Regions from separate parts of the Homo sapiens genome. Here region 2 is linked to region 1. The links come from fine-mapping of genetic effects on gene expression. A gene starts in region 1. The other region holds a variant in brackets. All regions are shown on one strand. Distances are from middle to middle.

Region 1 (8,337 bases):
TAGAAATGTTAGGGACAACGATTATATTTTGTTGTCCTGAACAGAGGAAAGGTCTTGCTTGAGCTTTGGTTACACATTTATAAAGTGGTAAGACAGCGAAGTAAAAAGAGCTCCCCAGAGAACCTCCCACCAGCCTTTGACTGGGAGAACAGGGTGGAGCCACAGAAGTTCATGCCATTGGCAGACGCAAGGAGCCTGGCCTCTTGAGTTCCTGTGTGGCAGGGTAGGAGCAGCTCCCTCTTCCTCTGCTGAGGTTTTTCTCTTTTTCCTTTTTTGCCCAATAAATTCCATTATTCTCACCCTTCTGTGTCCACAAGACTGATCTTTCCTGATTGTGTGACAAGAACTTAGATGAATTGAGAAGAAAGTCCTTTTTTTTTTTGAGACAGAGTCTCACTCTCACCCTAACTGTGTTTGGCGCTCAAATATGGGGCCTGAGGAAGTGAGGCAGGAAATTGAAGAAAGCAAAATAAAATTTAAAAAGTGAAAAACAAGCTTTCTATATGAGGCTGACTCATCCCAAAGGCAGTAACAGGCAAAGCCCTGACCCGGGTGTAGTCTTGATAACATTCTCAAAGAAACCAGGGCTCAAAGGATGTGCTCTGGAGACTCTTCCAGCACTCCCTCAACAAAAGGATAAGAAAAAGTAAAGTTCCCCCTTGAATCCCATCCCCTTCCGTGTGATTGTACCTTGCTCTGCAAGTTTTATGAGTTTATAGATTCCTGTTTTCTGTAACTAGTAACTTCAAGTATTCTGTTTTATCTAAACAGCACAGTGAAGGTTATAAGACATGCCTGAGTAGGCCTAGGCTGCGGCCGTCTGGGCACCATAGTGAAGATTATGAGATAAGCACTTGCAAGGCTCTTTTGAGCAAGCCTAGATAACAGCCACCTGGGCTGCATAAGCAAGGGTCATAGTGAGAGGTGACAGTGTGCTGGAAGTCCTCACAGCCCTCGCTCCCTCTCGGCGCCTCCTCTGCCTGGGCTCCCACTTTGGCGGCACTTCAGGAGCCCTTCAGCCCACTGCTGCACTGTGGGAGCGCCTTTCTGGGCTGGCCAAGGCCAGAGCCGGCTCCCTCAGCTTGCAGGAAGGTGTGGAGGGAGAGGCGCGAGCAGGAACCAGGGCTGCGCGGGGTGCTTGTGGACCAGCTGGAGTTCCAGGTGGGTGTGGGCTTGGCGGGCCCTGCACTCGGAGCAGCCAGCCGGCCCTGCCGGCCCCACGCAATGAGGGGCTTAGCACCCGGGCCAGTGGCTGCAGAGGGTGTACTGGGTCCCCCAGCAGTGCCGGCCCACTGGCGCTGCGCTCGATTTCTCACTGGGCCTTACCTGCCTTCTGGCGGGGCAGGGCTCGGGACCTGCAGCCTGCCATGCCTGAGCCTCCCACGCCCTCCGTGGGCTCCTGCACGGCCCGAGCCTCCCTGATGAGTGCTGCCCCCTGCTCCACGGCGCCCAGTCCCATCGAGCACCCAAGGGCTGAGGAGTGTGGGCACACAGCGTGGGACTGGCAGGCAGTTCCACCTGCAGCCCCAGTGCGAGATCCACTGGGTGAAGCCAGCTGGGCTCCTGAGTCTAGTGGGAACTTGGAGAACCTTTATGTCTAGCTAAAGGACTGTAAATACACCAATCGGCACTCTGTATCTAGCTCAAGGTTTATAAACACACCAATCAGCACCCTATGTCTAGCTCAGGGGTTGTGAATGCACCAATCGACACTCTGTATCTAGCTACTCTGGTGGGGACTGGGAGAACCTTTGTGTTGACACTCTGTATCTAGCTAATCTGGTGTGGACGTGGAGAACCTTTGTGTCTAGCTCAGGGATTGTAAATGCACCAATCAGGGCCCTGTCAAAACAGACCACTTGGCTCTACCAATCAGCAGGATGTGGGTGGGGCCAGATAAGAGAATAAAAGCAGGCTGCCCAAGCCAGCAGTGGCAACCCGCTCGGGTCCCCTTCCACACTGTGGAAGCTTTGTTCTTTCGCTCTTTGCAATAAATCTTGCTGCTGCTCACTCTTTGGGTCCACACTGCCTTTATGAGCTGTAACACTCACCGCGAAGGTCTGCAGCTTCACTCCTGAAGCCAACGAGACCACAAACCCACCGGGAGGAACGAACAACTCCAGACGTGCTGCCTTAAGAGCTATAACACTCACCACGAAGGTCCGCAATTTCACTCTTGAGCCAGCAAGACCATGAACCCACCAGAAGGAAGAAACTCTGAACACATCCGAACATCAGAAGGAACAAACGCCGGACATGCCGCCTTTAAGAACTATAACACTCACCACGAGGGTCCGTGGCTTCTTTCTTGAAGTCAGTGAGACCAAGAACCCATCAATTCCGACACAGTATGTAATCCTGAATTATGCACCTGTCACAATTTGATGAATTAATTGCCTTTGTGCTGCCTCTGTATCCTTGCTTTCACGCCACTATGCTTCACGCCACTGTAAGCTTGTTTCAAGCTAGCCCACCCCCTTTTAAAAGTGTGTATTAAAGTCAAGTGCTGTCTTTGTTCTGGGCCCAGCTTTTGGATGTTAGTCCGCTGGGTCTGAGTGCACTCAATAAAGTTCTCCTGTCTCACCCCATGGCCTCTCCAGTCCTCCTTCATTCCTGCAACAGAAGGATGAGTGAAATGGGGACTCAAAACCTCTCACTTTCATTTCTGAGCCTTTTGGTCTTATGGCATTCCTCTTCTTTTTGGGGGGACAGCAACGGCACCTATTTTTCTTTTTACGATACTGGAGGTGGTCCACACCCACCCCAATGGTCACCAGTGCACTCACAAGACAGTTGGGTGGGGTAGCTCCCTGGCCCCACTTCTTTACTGGCTGGGGTGCATGGTGGTGTCTGCAGCATGTGTGTGTGGTGTCCAGTAGCCACACAGGGCATAAATGAGCCACAGCCACTGCCCAGGCTCCAAGGCGCCGGCATGGCTGGCTGGCGTTCCCTACCAGGTGCCTGCAGTCTCCCCCTCCCCATTCCAGGGAGTCTAGCTCTGTCCCACAGCAATTAAGCTCCTCTCTCTGGTGGAGGAACCATTTGCATAGGAATAAGAGGTTCTTCCCCCAGGCATCCTTATCTCCTCTCCAACCCATCAGCAGTATACTTTTAAAGGAGGTTTTTCTTTTCCTTTTGGAAGACGTTTTGCTCTTTTGGGAATGATGAGGATTACCGTTTATATTTTCTGTAAAGTTTTGTGCGAAAGGATTTGTGAGGTAAGTCGTAAGCTGTAGCCAATCTGTGTGTTTTGCATGTCTTTCTGTATGCTCCACAGCAAACTTCGCTGCAGGCCTCCATCTTGTTTTACGTCCTTGGGGGCGTGGCCTGTAACCCCATTGCATAGCTTCGTTTAGCCCGGCATGGCCCAGATTCATCCTGGCTTAGGGAATGAGTCCTTTCTGGTTTGGTATCTGTATGCCCTTTCGCTATTTGTCGATTCCCCTGCCCTCCACCAACCACCTTGGATTTTCCTTTCTCTGAGCCTTTAAGTAAAGTTTGAAAGCCAGAAATATTGGCCGCTTGGTGGAGCTAAAGTTAGATAATAAGGGTGTTAAAAGAATTTTCTTAAGGAGTGCTCAGCTTAATTAAAAGTAGATATCTAAGTTGTAATTATATTTATAAGGCCTTTATGTTTTCCTTTTCTTGGACCTTATTTTGCTGGAAAAAGTGTTTCTTTGCGGTCGACTGAGTTATTTTTCTCCATTTTGCCTTGCCACTTTTAATGCCTGCATAAGAGGGGCGATCTCTGTTTTCCTCATGGAACCCCAGGAATTAAAAGCAGATAGATCCCTCTCCCTGTGATGAAAGATCTTATGGCAACTGGGTTTTCTTCTGCCTGTCTGTGTAGTTATATATGTGTTGTGTGTGATGTCTATAAAAAGATCTCTAATTAATTGACCTAAAGGAAGATAAGCGTTTGGATCAAATATTTTTTTAAAGGGAAGATAAAAGCTGTGGTATCTTTTAGTTCACGTCACTTTAATCTTTGAAAAATAAAAACAGCCTCAAATATTATTGGTAAAATACAGATGTTGTCAAAATATAAATAGACAGACTAAATTATGCAGTTCAGGTAGCGCCCTGCCGACCCTGTCTCTTAAAAAACAAAAAAACGGGGTCACCTTTCCATCCCTTTTCTAACGGTTTGAATCTCAGGACTGTATTCCTAGGCCCCTGTTGCTTATGCTGCCCTGTGGTGCCCAGGTGAGCTTTTATTCTGAGATTGGCTGGTTGGGGTATGGATAACAATCGAAGGCTCTGTTACCGCAGGCGTGTTTCTGAGTCCTGCTCCCGCCCCATGCCCGAGGGTGCCCAGACTCACCAGCTCGGGTCGCGGCTCGCTTCCCGGCAGGCGCCGGCCTACTGGCGGCAGGCACAGAGCCCCCAGCGTGCGGAGGCGCGCGGCGCAGCTCCTCAGCATGGCTCCGGGCCGCGGGGCCGCGCTTGCTCTAGCCCTGGACGGCGCACTCTACCTCCGCCACAAGAGCGCGCGTGCGAGTTAACCCCTGGGGTGGACGCAGGGCGGGGCTTGGGGAGGAGGCGGTGCGCACTACTGGCGGCTGGCTGGCCGGGGTGTGAGGCCGGCGGGGTCCGGGTAGGGCATCGCTGTTGAGTCTATCTTCTGGTTCCGGCCTTTTCTTTCCGAAGACCTCCCGCTGCGGCCAACAGCCGGGCCACTTCCGGGGCTTCTCAAAGGCAAGAGGAGCGCGGCCGGAGCGGATCCCGGTTATCGCCTTGGGCCCCTCAGCCCCTCAGCCCCGGAACCCGCGCGCCGACTGGAGGCTTTGCGGTCATCCTTCCCACATGACCCAGGGCGTACGCAGTGCTCCGTGTCCCCAAGTAGTTATCCCTCCCCCGGAAGACTGAAGTCCCTGGGGCGGGTAGGAGCGCACGCTAGGAGTAGTATGAATAAAGTGTTTTCTTGGAGGTCATGGGCAAGTCTCTGGACAGGGTTGATAGTGCTGATTTATAGAGGGCAGTCTGGGCACAAAGAGCATTTATACGATCGAAAAGCTGCTTTCCCTGCCAACAGCCCCATACCCTCCCCAGGAGCGCGCTTACGCCTTAAAAGACTCTTTTGTTATGTAAACTGACAGTTAAATTAAACGAAGGTAATGGATACTAAAGGCGTAACAGGTATTGTAACTATTTTACTGTTATCGATGCTTTTGAGGTTACTTACCTCGCTTGTATTCGTATGGTGGGAATACTAGGCGCATACCTTCTGAGCTTCGAATTCAGTAACCTCACTGGGACCTTGAAATCGGACTGGGTTGGAGTATTCCCATTACTCAGATAATGCAAATCCGGGCCATCATACCCCTTTATTTTTAAATGCTTACCAGTATGCCATAGCCCTAGTCCATCCTAAGGTGAAGACTCTAATGGGTTTTTTTTGAGACAGAGTCTCGCAGAGATACTGCTATTGCACTTCAGCCTGGGCAACATACTGATGCCCCATCTCAAAAAAGCAATAAATTAAAAAGAAAACTCGAATGACCTGAATGCATTAGATATTTTGCCTTGATTCCTTTCCCATGAACAACTCCAGCAGTTTGTCAGTAGGTAAGAACACCTAGATACATTTTAAGCCTACACTATTAACTGGGGGAAGGTGTAACATTCTGAGAGAAAGGGAATTGGGGAGAGAAGGCAATGCAGTTAGGAGGGGCCCCTTGGAATCCTAGAGCTACTGAACCGAAGATCAGGCATAAAGGATGGTTGTTGAGATTCTGTAATTCTAAGAGGTTGTATTCTGATATCTCCTAAGCACCCCCCCCAACCTCCCACATTCCCTTTATCTCAGTTGTCTTCCTTTTTAATATATTAATAGTATTGCAGTTTCCTGGTGGCAGGGATGGGGTCAGATTGCCTTATTAATTGTAACAACGTGCACGTAGTGCTTGAATACTTACTTAGCAGCAAGAATCCAAAGTATCTTTGGTGTCTGTTGTCTTCCCATGTTGTGCGTGCAGATGGAGGCACGAGCATAACGTAAATCTCTAAAATTGAGATGACTACTGTTAATGAATAGAAAAGTTTATTCAGGTAACTTAAAATTGCATCTATTTACAATTTACAGTGTAGTCAAATCAATCAATACCTATAGACTTCAACCCTGCTAAGATTGTCTATATGATTAATGTACCAATAGCTCACCTAACAGCTTCCTTTTGTTTTTTTGAGATGGAGTCTCACTCTGTTGCCCAGGCTGGAAGTGCAGTGGCATGATCTTGGCTCACTGCAACCTCTGCCTCCAGGGTTCAAGCGATTCTCCCTGCCTCAACCTCCCGAGTAGGTGGGATTACAGGCGCGTGCCACCACATCTGGCTAATTTTTATATTTTTGGTAGAGACGGGGTTTCACCCTGTTGGCCAGGCTGGTCTTGAACTCCTGACCTCAAGTGATCTGCCTGCCTCCCAAAGTGCTGGGATTACCAGCATGAGCCACTGCACTCGGCACCTATCAGCTTCTTAAAAGACCTTAGACTTAGGGCAATTAGAGGTCAGTTACACTGAGTTTAAACTTCATTAAATTTTAACTCTAAATTTTTCAAGTAGCGGCAGTGCATTTAGTTAAGTCATCCACACTCTTGCATGGCTTACTCTGGGATATTCGTGTTGACAGCACATATAAAATGTCTGGTCAGATTTGGAAGAGGAAGGGCAGGTTACAGTCTAGAAATAGGATTGATAGGCTATGGAAGTGAAGGAGTTTGAAGCTTGTATGGTTTAGGCAAGGAACAAATGTTCAATCTTGATAGAACTAGGCTTCGAATAAGCCAATGGTATGAAACTTAATAGTCTTCTCACCATTCTTTAATTTTGTAGACAGCTTTATTGAGGTGTAGTTGCCATAGGATGGGCACCGTGGCTCATACCTGTAATTCCAGCACTTTGGGAGGCTGAGGTGGGTGGATCACCTGAGGTCAGGAGTTTGAGACCAGCCAGGCCAACATGGTGAAACCCCGTCTCTGCTAAAAATACAAAAATTAAGGCCGGGCGCAGTGGCTCACTCCTATAATCCCAGCACTTTGTGAGGCTGCAGCGGGCAGATCACGAGGTCAGAAGATTGAGACCGTCCTGGCTAACACGGTGAAACCCTGTCTCTACTAAAAATACCAAAAATTAACCGGGCGTGGTGGCGGGCGCCTGTAGTCCCAGCTACTCGGGAGTCTGAGGCAGGAGAATGGCGTGAACGTGGGAGGCGGAGCTTGCAGTGAGCCAAGATCGCGCCACTGCACTCCAGCCTGGGCGACAGAGTAAGACTGAGTCTCAAAAAAAAAAAAAAAAAAAAAGTTAGCCAGGTGTGGTGGCGCATGCCTGTAATCCCAGCTACTTGAGAGGCTGAGGCAGGAGAATCGCTTGAACCTGTCAGGTGGAGGTTGCAGAGAGCCGAGATCGCGCCATTGTACTCCAGCCTGGGCAACAAGAACGAAACTCCATCTCAAAAAAAAAAAAAAAAAAAAAGCCAGAGGCAGTGGCTCATGCCTGTAATCCCAACACTTTAGGAGGCTGTGGCAGGCGGATCACAAGGTCAGGAGTTCGAGACCAGCCTGACCAACATGATGAAACCCCGTCTTTACTAAAAATACAAAAATTAGCTGGGCATGGTGGCGTGCACCTGTAATCCCGGCTACTCGGGAGGCTGAGGCAGGAGAATTGCTTGAACCCGGGAGGCGGAAGTTGCAGTGAGCCAGGATTGCACCACTGCACTCCAGCCTGGGTGACAGAATGAGACTCCGTCTCAAAAAAAAAAAAAAAAAAAAAAAAGAGATAGTTGACATAAACTGAACATATTTAAAGTATACAATTGGATGTTTTCATACAAGTTTACACTCATGCAAACATCACCATAATCAAGATAATGAGCCACAAAATATTACCCACAAATTTGCTCATGCCCTTTTGTAAATCCTCCCTTCTATCGTACAGTACTTTCTGTCACTGTAGATTAATTTCCATTTTCTAGAGTTTTATATAAATGGAATTATATAGTATGTACTTTTTGTGGTCTGGATTTTTTTAATTCACTATAACTATTTTGAGATTCATCCATGTTTTGCTTATGTCGAGAATTTATTTTTTAAAATTGCTGAGTAGTATTCCATTGTATGGATGTACCACAATTTTTCTATTCACCCATGGATGACCATTTGGCTTATTTCCAGTTTTTGTGAATTACAAATATAGCTGCTGTGAGTACAAGTCTTTGTATGGATGTATGCCTTCATTTCTCTTGGGTAAATATCTAAGAGTGGAATGGTTGGATCATGTGGTAGATGTATGTTTAACTGTTTAAGAAACTGCCAAACTTTTCCAAAGTTGTTGTATC
Region 2 (8,337 bases), 29 kb before region 1:
AAGAACATCTATAAATCAGTAAGAAAATGAGAACAAATGGAAAAAAAGCTGAACAAACAAAAATTTCACAGAATGGGAAAAAATATGGTCAATAAACATATGAAGAGACACTCAACCACACAGGTAATCAGAGAAATGCAAATCAAGATCACACCGAGAAGTCATTTTATAGTCATTTGACTGGCAAAAATCATGAAGTCTGACTTCACTAATTGCTAGAGAAGATGGGAATCTAAAGAATCTCATATATTGCTGGTGGGAGTTTAATTTGGTACAGGCTTAGAAAACAATTTTGCATTCCTCTGTAAAGCTGAATACTCACAATACTCTACCACCCAGAAATTCTGTTCCTAAGTATATGCCAAGCTCTTGCCCATGCACACCACCAGGAGACATGAACAAGAATGTTTATAGCAGCCCCATTTGTAATAGTCAGAGGCCTGTCACTGGAAGAGAGACATTCATTGTGGGACAGTCACATATGGAGTATTACACAGTGGTACAAACAAGTGAACACAGCCAACAACATGGATGAACCTCAGTACTCCAGGGAAGTAACAGGTCATGTGTGTGACTTTCCTGAGACAGTCTACACACACATAAATATAGACATATTTTTCTTATTTATGGTATCACAATATTTCACCATTTTTTAATGGCACACACATACAATATAGTTCATAGGTGAGCTGTAGTTCTTTAACCAGTCTCCTATTGATGGATAGCTATGTTTGCTACGTTTTGCCATTTTTCTTGCTATTGCAAATAATGTTGCATGAGTGACACAATCACTGGAACCCGATAGCAATCTAACACATTATAATTTTGCAGTTATTATACCTGTGAGATAAAGTCCTGGAGGTGGGTCAAAGGGCATATCACTTTGTAAATTTTTTTTTTTTTTTTGAGACAGGGTCTGGCTCTGTCACCCAGGCTGGAGTGCAGAGGTGCGATCTCAGCTCACTGCAACCTCTGTCTCCTGGGTTCAAGGGAGCCTCCCATCTCAGCCTCCCAAGTAGCTGGGACTACAGGCGCACACTACCATGCCCCGCTAATTTTTTGTATTTTTTGTAGAGATGGGGTCTTGCCATGTTGCCAAGGCTGGTCTCGAACTCCTGGGCTCAAGTGATCCTCCCACCTTAGCCTACCAAAGTGCGGGGACTACAGGCATGAGCTTATGCATTGGGCTGTAATTTTGATAGCTGTTGGCAACTTGCCCTTTACTAGCAATGTATAAGAATATCTTTAACTTGTTCTTTGTATGACAGGGAATTAAGAATTTTTTGGCATGTATGGGTTATAATACCAGGGCAAAAAACCAAACCAAACCAAAACACCCCCCTGACCCCCACAAAACCCAAATCAACCAACCAACCAACCAACCAAAACTCCCAACCCAACCCAACTAAACCCCAAGAAAGAGATAAGACCAGCTTCTTACTTGTCGCCTCTGAGTATAGGGTCTTCTCATCAACACTCTGAACATTACAGGAAACAAAAAATTTCCTTCCTTCAACTTTATCAAGTTGGCTATTTATCATAACAACAGAACAAAGAGGGATAGGTCTGCAGAATAAAATGAAAAAGGAAAAAAATCAGTTTTTATCTGACTTATATAACATTAAAAGATGATCAAGTACATGACAAGGGATAGAAATTTATGACACCTGACAACAATGAGCACTGACTGCCTTAGACAATACATTCCTCAAGGACTCTGACACCAACAGCCTCTCAAGCTCCCCCTCTCCCAAGCACCACTGCTCTCAGGTGGCTCCTGGGCTACAGTCCCTGGATGTCTCTCTGGGCTTGTTTCAAAGGGATCATCAGGAATTCCAGCTCTGTGATGGCAGAGACTATCCCATCTGGAGATCCACTGCAAAGTCCTAAGGGAGCTGAAATGCTTTAAAGAAGTGAAAATAGGGCCAACAGATGGTCCCAGGCAGCTTCTCTCATTTCTTCTGTCATAATCAACATTTCTCATTCAATTCTGAGTAATGGTCACTAGAAAGACACCTAATAACAACAAATTGCTGATAACAGCTTACTGCTCTAAGTCAGTACTGTCCAATAGAACTTTCTGTGATGATACAAATGTTCCATATCTGAGCTGTCCAACCTGGTAGCCACATGTGCCTAATGAGCACTTGAAATGTGGCTAGCATAACTGAGAAGTTGAGTCCTTAAATTTATTTAATTTGAATTAATTTATACTTAACTTTAAATAGCTACATGTGACTAGTGGCTACAGACGTTTCTGGGAATCCTGGAGAAACATATCACAATGAAAGGATATCTCTTTAAAAGTGAAATTTCAGTTGGTTGAAACAGAAGGTAGAGCACGGAAACGTGTTTCGTGCTCCTATGGTACTACCAAGCAGATGATGGAACTACCCCAGGTAGAAAGGAAGTTATCACTGTGATGATCTCTCTGCCCAGTTTTCCTTTCAATGAACTTTTAATACTTCCACTCCCATTAGCTTTTCCTTTGCTCTTTTGTTGAGTCAATTCAACATTTACTAAGACCCAGGGGACATTAGGTGTTCTCGCCTGCCCAGCAACTCCCTTTTCTACTAACATGACTCTCTTCATTTATCCATCCCCTACCCTCCCTTCATTCTCTTCATATCTCTCTCTTTGATATACTCATGTACCCCTTTTGTCAGGGAACCACCTCTCCCTCATTCTTAGCCCATGTAGGTTGACTGGCATTGAATAATGATCCCTCCACTCCACACACACATAGTGACCAGTTGTGGGGGTGGGCACAGGCTGAAATAGTCAATCCTGGAACTTGTGCTGTAGCCCTTGGGGCTGGGTTCTTTTTCTCTGAGGCGCTAGGCTTACAAGACATAAGCCTGGCTGGCCTGGCTGGTGGCCATTGTGCCACTACACTGGGAAAGGCTACGTAAGGATGAAGCAGATCTAGAAGAAAATGTGGCTGAGATTCCTAATGACATCACTGAATATCTGCACTCAGCCACACCTGACTTCTCAACCATACAAGCCAATATATTCCCTTTTTTGCTTAAGCTAGTGAGAGTTAAGAGTTGCCCTTGTAACAGAAAGTCCTAGATTAGTAAAGAGACTAACAGAAAATGTTTCAGAAAATACAAAATAATGCAACAACTATACAGTGTAATTTTCTAAATGTAACTAATATTTAGGCACAGATCAGTTTGGTTGGCACAGGAAACTGGCTTTAGCTTGTTTTCCTTCGTTTAGCTAGAACACTTAATTAGATTTGTATTAGAGGCAGAAAAGTGATAACAAAGATAAAAGCAGCATTTAAAAATAAAAAAATTTGTTTTATTATATTTGTATATGTCTATACACACACACACACACACACACACACACACACACACACTGGAAAGGCATAACAAAGCCAAAAGATAACTCTTTGAAAAGACTAATAATTTCTGGCAAGACAGATCAAGACAATGAGAGAGAGCATACATAAATACTATTGGGGCCAAAAAGGATATAGATTTAGCTGAAATTTTTTAAAAATTGAGAATATTGTGAATATTATGAATAACTTTATGTCAATACATTTGAAAATGCAGATGAAATAGAAAAAAATTTCAAAAATTTATTAAAACTAAGAAAATGATTAGAAAGCCTGAATAGTTGAATAAAGAAGACACTGAGGCACTAAGCGGAAGGAGGAGTCTCACTCTGAAACGAGACTGGGTCTCTCAATCACTTCATGGGGTTACCCTCACTGACCAGGATAACCACATGAGACTATTAGGTAAACCAAAAAAGCCTATAGGTTTAAAGTAGTGAAATGTAGGAGTTACACTAGCTAATGTTACTCTAATTTACTATAGATTTTTTTTAAAAAGTTCTTTTTTTTTTTTTAACCTCAAATTCAATGTGGCCAGAACATTGGCTTGTAAGGTTCTGGTTCTGTAAAATCTATTAAGACTTAATTTATAAGCCAATACATGATCAATTTTTGCAAATGTGTGCTGGGAAAAAGAAAGTGTGCTGTTTTCTAATTATTGGATGCAGAGTTCTATGTTTGTCTAATAAACCATACTTGTTATCTTGTGATGTTTAAATTCTCCATTTTCTTTCTTTCTTTTCTTTTCTTTTTTTTTTTTTTTGAGATGGAGTCTTGTTCTGTCACCCAGGTTGGAGTGCAGTGGCGCGATCTTGGTTCACTGCAACCTCCGCCTCCTGGGTTCAAGCGATTCTCCTGCCTCGGCCTCCCAAGTAGCTGGGATTACAGGCACATGCCACCATGCCCAGCTAA[GT/G]TTTTGTATTTTTAGTAGAGATGGGGTTTCACCATGTTAGCCAGGATGGTCTCAATCTCCTGACCTCATGATCCACCCACCTTGGCCTCCCAAGGTGCTGAGATTACAGGCTTGAGCCACCGTGCCTGGCCTAAATCCTCCATTTTCTAATTGTTTTTTCTTTTTTTTGGAGACAGGGTCTCAGTATGTTGCTCAGGCTGCAGTTCAGTGGCTATTCACAGGAGTTATCATAGTGCATTGCAGCCTTGAACCCCTGGACTAAAGCAATCCTCCTGCCTCAGCCTCCCAAATAGCTGGGACTATAGATGTGCACCACCTCACTTGGCTCTGATTTTTTTTTTTTGTCTGCTTGACCTATCAATAATTGAGAACAGGCTGGGTGCTGTGTCACACCTGTAATCCTAGCACTTTGGGAGTCCGAGGTGGGCGGATCACGAGGTCAGGAATTCGAGAGCAGCCTGGTCAGCATGGTGAAACCCTGTCTCTACTAAAAATAGAAAAAAATTAGCCAGGCATGGTGGTGGGTGCCTGTAGTCCCAGCTACTTGGGAGGCTGAGACAGGAGAATTGCTTGAATCCAGCAGGCGGAGGTTGCCATAAGCTGAGCTCGCGCCACTGCACTCCAGCCTGGGTGACAGAGCGAGACTCTGTCTTGAAAAAAAAAAATTGAGAACAATGTGTTGGAATCTCCCACTATATAAAGGTGGGCTAGTCAACTTCTCCCTATGATTATATCAATTTAATTTATACTCTTTATTAGACGCATATTGATTTAGTTATTATTACCTACTATTGAACTGAATCTTTTATTACTATGAAGTAGCCTTCTCTATCCCCAATATTACTTTTTTGACAGTTCATTATTTTTTCTGATCCCAGTTTTCTTCTGGTTAACTTTTGTGTAGCATATTTTCTCTTCCTTTTAAACTTTTTGGTGTCATTTCAAAAATATGTCTCATATAGTTTCTAGTTTTTTACTTTTAAAAATTCAATATTATAATCTGTCTTTGAACTGATGGTTTGGTCTATTTATAGAGAGTCATTACTGATTTATTTAGACTTATTTCTATCATCTTATTTTGGCTTATTATTTGACTCGCTTTTTCTAACCCTCTTTTTTTCCTTGCCTTTTTAAAAATTGAGTTTTACTACTTGTTTGATCTTGTATTGTTTTAGATATTAGTTATACACTCATTTTCTCTTATTTTAATCATTCTCTCCACTGAAAAATATGAGGATGTATCAACATTAACTCTGTTCATCTCCTCCCAAACTACATGCTATTGTTATCCAGTATTTTAGCTGTCCTTTTGTTAATCACTATAATTTATTTATTGTAAATTTTTATTTTTATTATTTTTAGAGATGGGTTCTCAGTCTGTCCCCCAGGCTGGAGTGCAGTGGCGCAATCATAGCTTACTGCAACCTTGAACTCTTGGGCTCTAGCGATCTTCTTGCATCAACCTCCCAAGTAGCTAGGACCACAGGCATGAGCCACTGCAACACACCAATCCTCAGAATTTAGACATCAATATTACTTATAGACTCTATTTAGATTTTAGTTATCTACATGTTTACCAATTAATTTGCTCATGATTCCTCCTTTCATCCTCCCACCTGTTGGGATTGCTTTCCTTCTTTCTAAAGTCCACCATTTAGGAGCTCCCTGGGTGTTGTCCTGCTGTTCCATAAATTCTCTCCATTTGTTTGAATGACAGCACCTTCATTTTGCGCTCATTTTTGAACTTTAGCTTTGCTGAGAGCATGATTTTAGATCGACATTTTCTTTTGGCAGATGTTTTATTGTCTTCTGGCTTCTACTGTTGCTATTGAGAGGTTTACTGCCAGTGTAATGGTGCCCTCTTGCTTCTAAAAAGCAAGACTGCTTTGTAATGGCTGCTCTATCTTAGCTCTGCTTTTAAGATCTCTTTGTCTTAAGTATTCTCCAATTTCTCTATAATGTCTCTAGATATACTTTTAAAACCTAGCTTGATATAGATTGCTTTCTATATTGTCAATTCATGATTTTCTTTAGCTCTTGAATATGCTGACCCATTATTTCCTTAAATACTGGATCTCTTCAATTCTCTTTATTCTATTTTTCTAGGACTCTAATTAGAGCATGTTAGATCTTTTTATTTGTCCACTATAGCTTATGCTCTCTATATTTCCCATTTCCTTTTTTCTCTGTGCTGGATTCAGGGTAATTTTTTTTTTCTCTCTCTCTCTGCTAAACATAGATCTGAAAATAATAATTAAAAAGCTTCATTTAGGCCGGGCATGGTGGCTCACGCCTGTAATCCCAGCACTTTGGGAGGCCGAGGCGGATGGATCATGAGGCCAGGAGTTCAAGACCAGCATGACCAACATGGCAAAAACCCATGTTTACTAAAAATACAGAAATTAGCCGGGCATGGTGGCATGTGCCTGTAATGTCAGCGACTCAGGAGGCTGAGGCAGGAGAATCGCTTGAACGCAGGAGGCGGAGGTTGGAATGAGCCAAGATTGCACCACTGACTCCAGCCTGGGTGACAGAGAGACTCCATCTCAAAAAAAAAAAAAAAAAAGCTTCATTTAACATATTAAGCTGCTAGCTCTGAATACATTAACTGTGATCCTCAAAATATCTCTTTAAGAAAAGTATTATTGTCTTTGGTTAATGGATGAGGAAACTGAGGCCCAGAGAGGTTAGGTAATTTGCTAAAGCTGTATGGCTATTTGGTGGCACACATGGGATTCAAATCCCCAACAGTCTGATTCAAAGTTCTACTTCCCATTTTGCATTTGAGCTTGTTTTATCTGCCAAATGACTTAGTTGAGGTGGGCATGTTGATGTATTTATGGGATATATCTCAACACCGCACTAGAACAATGGAGCTGGTGACTAATTTAGTGTTTTTAGTAATACAACCACCACCACCATCACCGAGCATATGGATCTGACAAATGAACTCTTGATTAAATTTCAATGGAAGGGGAAAATAACTTGTAGGGAGAAATGATTTGAAGGTTTACTGGGCTGTGAGATTATAAAAATCATGAGAGTTTGCATTAGTTTATTTTCATGCTACTATAAAGAACTACCTGAGACTGGGTAATTTATAAAGAAAAGAGGTTTAATTGACTCACAGTTCTGCATGGCTGGGGAGGCTTCAAGAGACTTACAATCACGGCAAAGGTGAAGGGAAAGGGGAAGGGGAAGCAAGGCACGTCTTACATGGTGGCAGGAGAGAGAGAGAGAGAGAGTGCAAGGGGGGATCTGTCAAATGCTTTTATTTATTTATTTATTTATTTATTTATTTATTTATTTTCGAGATGGAGTCTTGCTCTGTTGCCCAGGCTGGAGTGCACTGGCGCAATCTCGGCTCACTGCAACTCTCAGGTTCAAGCAATTCTCCTGCCTCAGCCTCCTGAGTAGCTGGGATTATAGGCATACACCACCATGCCCAGCTAATTTTTTTTTGCATTTTCAGTAGAGATGGGGTTTCACCATGTTGGTCAGGCTGGCCTTGAACTCCTGATCTCAGGTGATCCACTCACCTTGGCCTCCCAAAATGCTGGGATTACAGGCGTGAGCCACGGTGCCCAGCCTGCCAAACACTTTTAAACCATCAGATTTCATAAGAACTCACTATCACTAGAACAGCATGGGGGAAACTGCCCCCATGATCCAGTCACCTCTCACCAGGTCCCTCCCTTGACACATGGGGATTACAATTCTAGATGAGATTTGGGTGGCGACACAAAGCCAAACCATATCAGAATTATAAAATGTCTAACTAAATTGTTAGTGAAAATAAAGGATTTAATTGTGCATTTTTTTTTTTTTGAGATGGAGTCTCACTCTGTTGCCCAGGCTGGAGTGCAGTGGCATGATCTCGGCTCATTGCAACCTCCCAGGTTCAAGCGATTCTCCTGCCTCAGCCTCCCAAGTAGCCTGGCCTTAACTGTGCATTTTAAAGGAACAAGCACTGGGCACGATGGCTCACACCTGTAATCTCAGCACTTTGGGAGGCTGAGGTGGGTGGATCACCTGAGGTCAGGAGTTTGAGACCAGCCTGGCCAACATGGTG

The links. PIP is the estimated chance that this variant, and not a neighbour inherited with it, causes the effect. A credible set is the group of variants that fine-mapping cannot tell apart.
Region 2: its variant is the best candidate, but not a certain one, in a credible set for the expression of THEM4 in whole blood (INTERVAL, PIP 0.82).

The regions. Positions count from the first base shown.
Region 1 is chr1:151,905,036-151,913,372 of GRCh38, forward strand. THEM4 (thioesterase superfamily member 4) reads right to left here and starts at 4,476. Exons shown (of 6, transcript NM_053055.5): 1 at 4,325-4,476. The coding sequence starts at 4,423. RefSeq lists enhancers at 1,222-1,761, 4,753-4,872, 4,861-5,448 and a silencer at 4,203-4,512.
Region 2 is chr1:151,875,560-151,883,896 of GRCh38, forward strand. THEM4 (thioesterase superfamily member 4) reads right to left here. Exons shown (of 6, transcript NM_053055.5): 5 at 1,442-1,566. Among named protein-coding and RNA genes, the nearest start is that of THEM5, 26 kb to the left of the region's middle. The variant GT/G (reference allele first, on the strand shown) is at 4,265.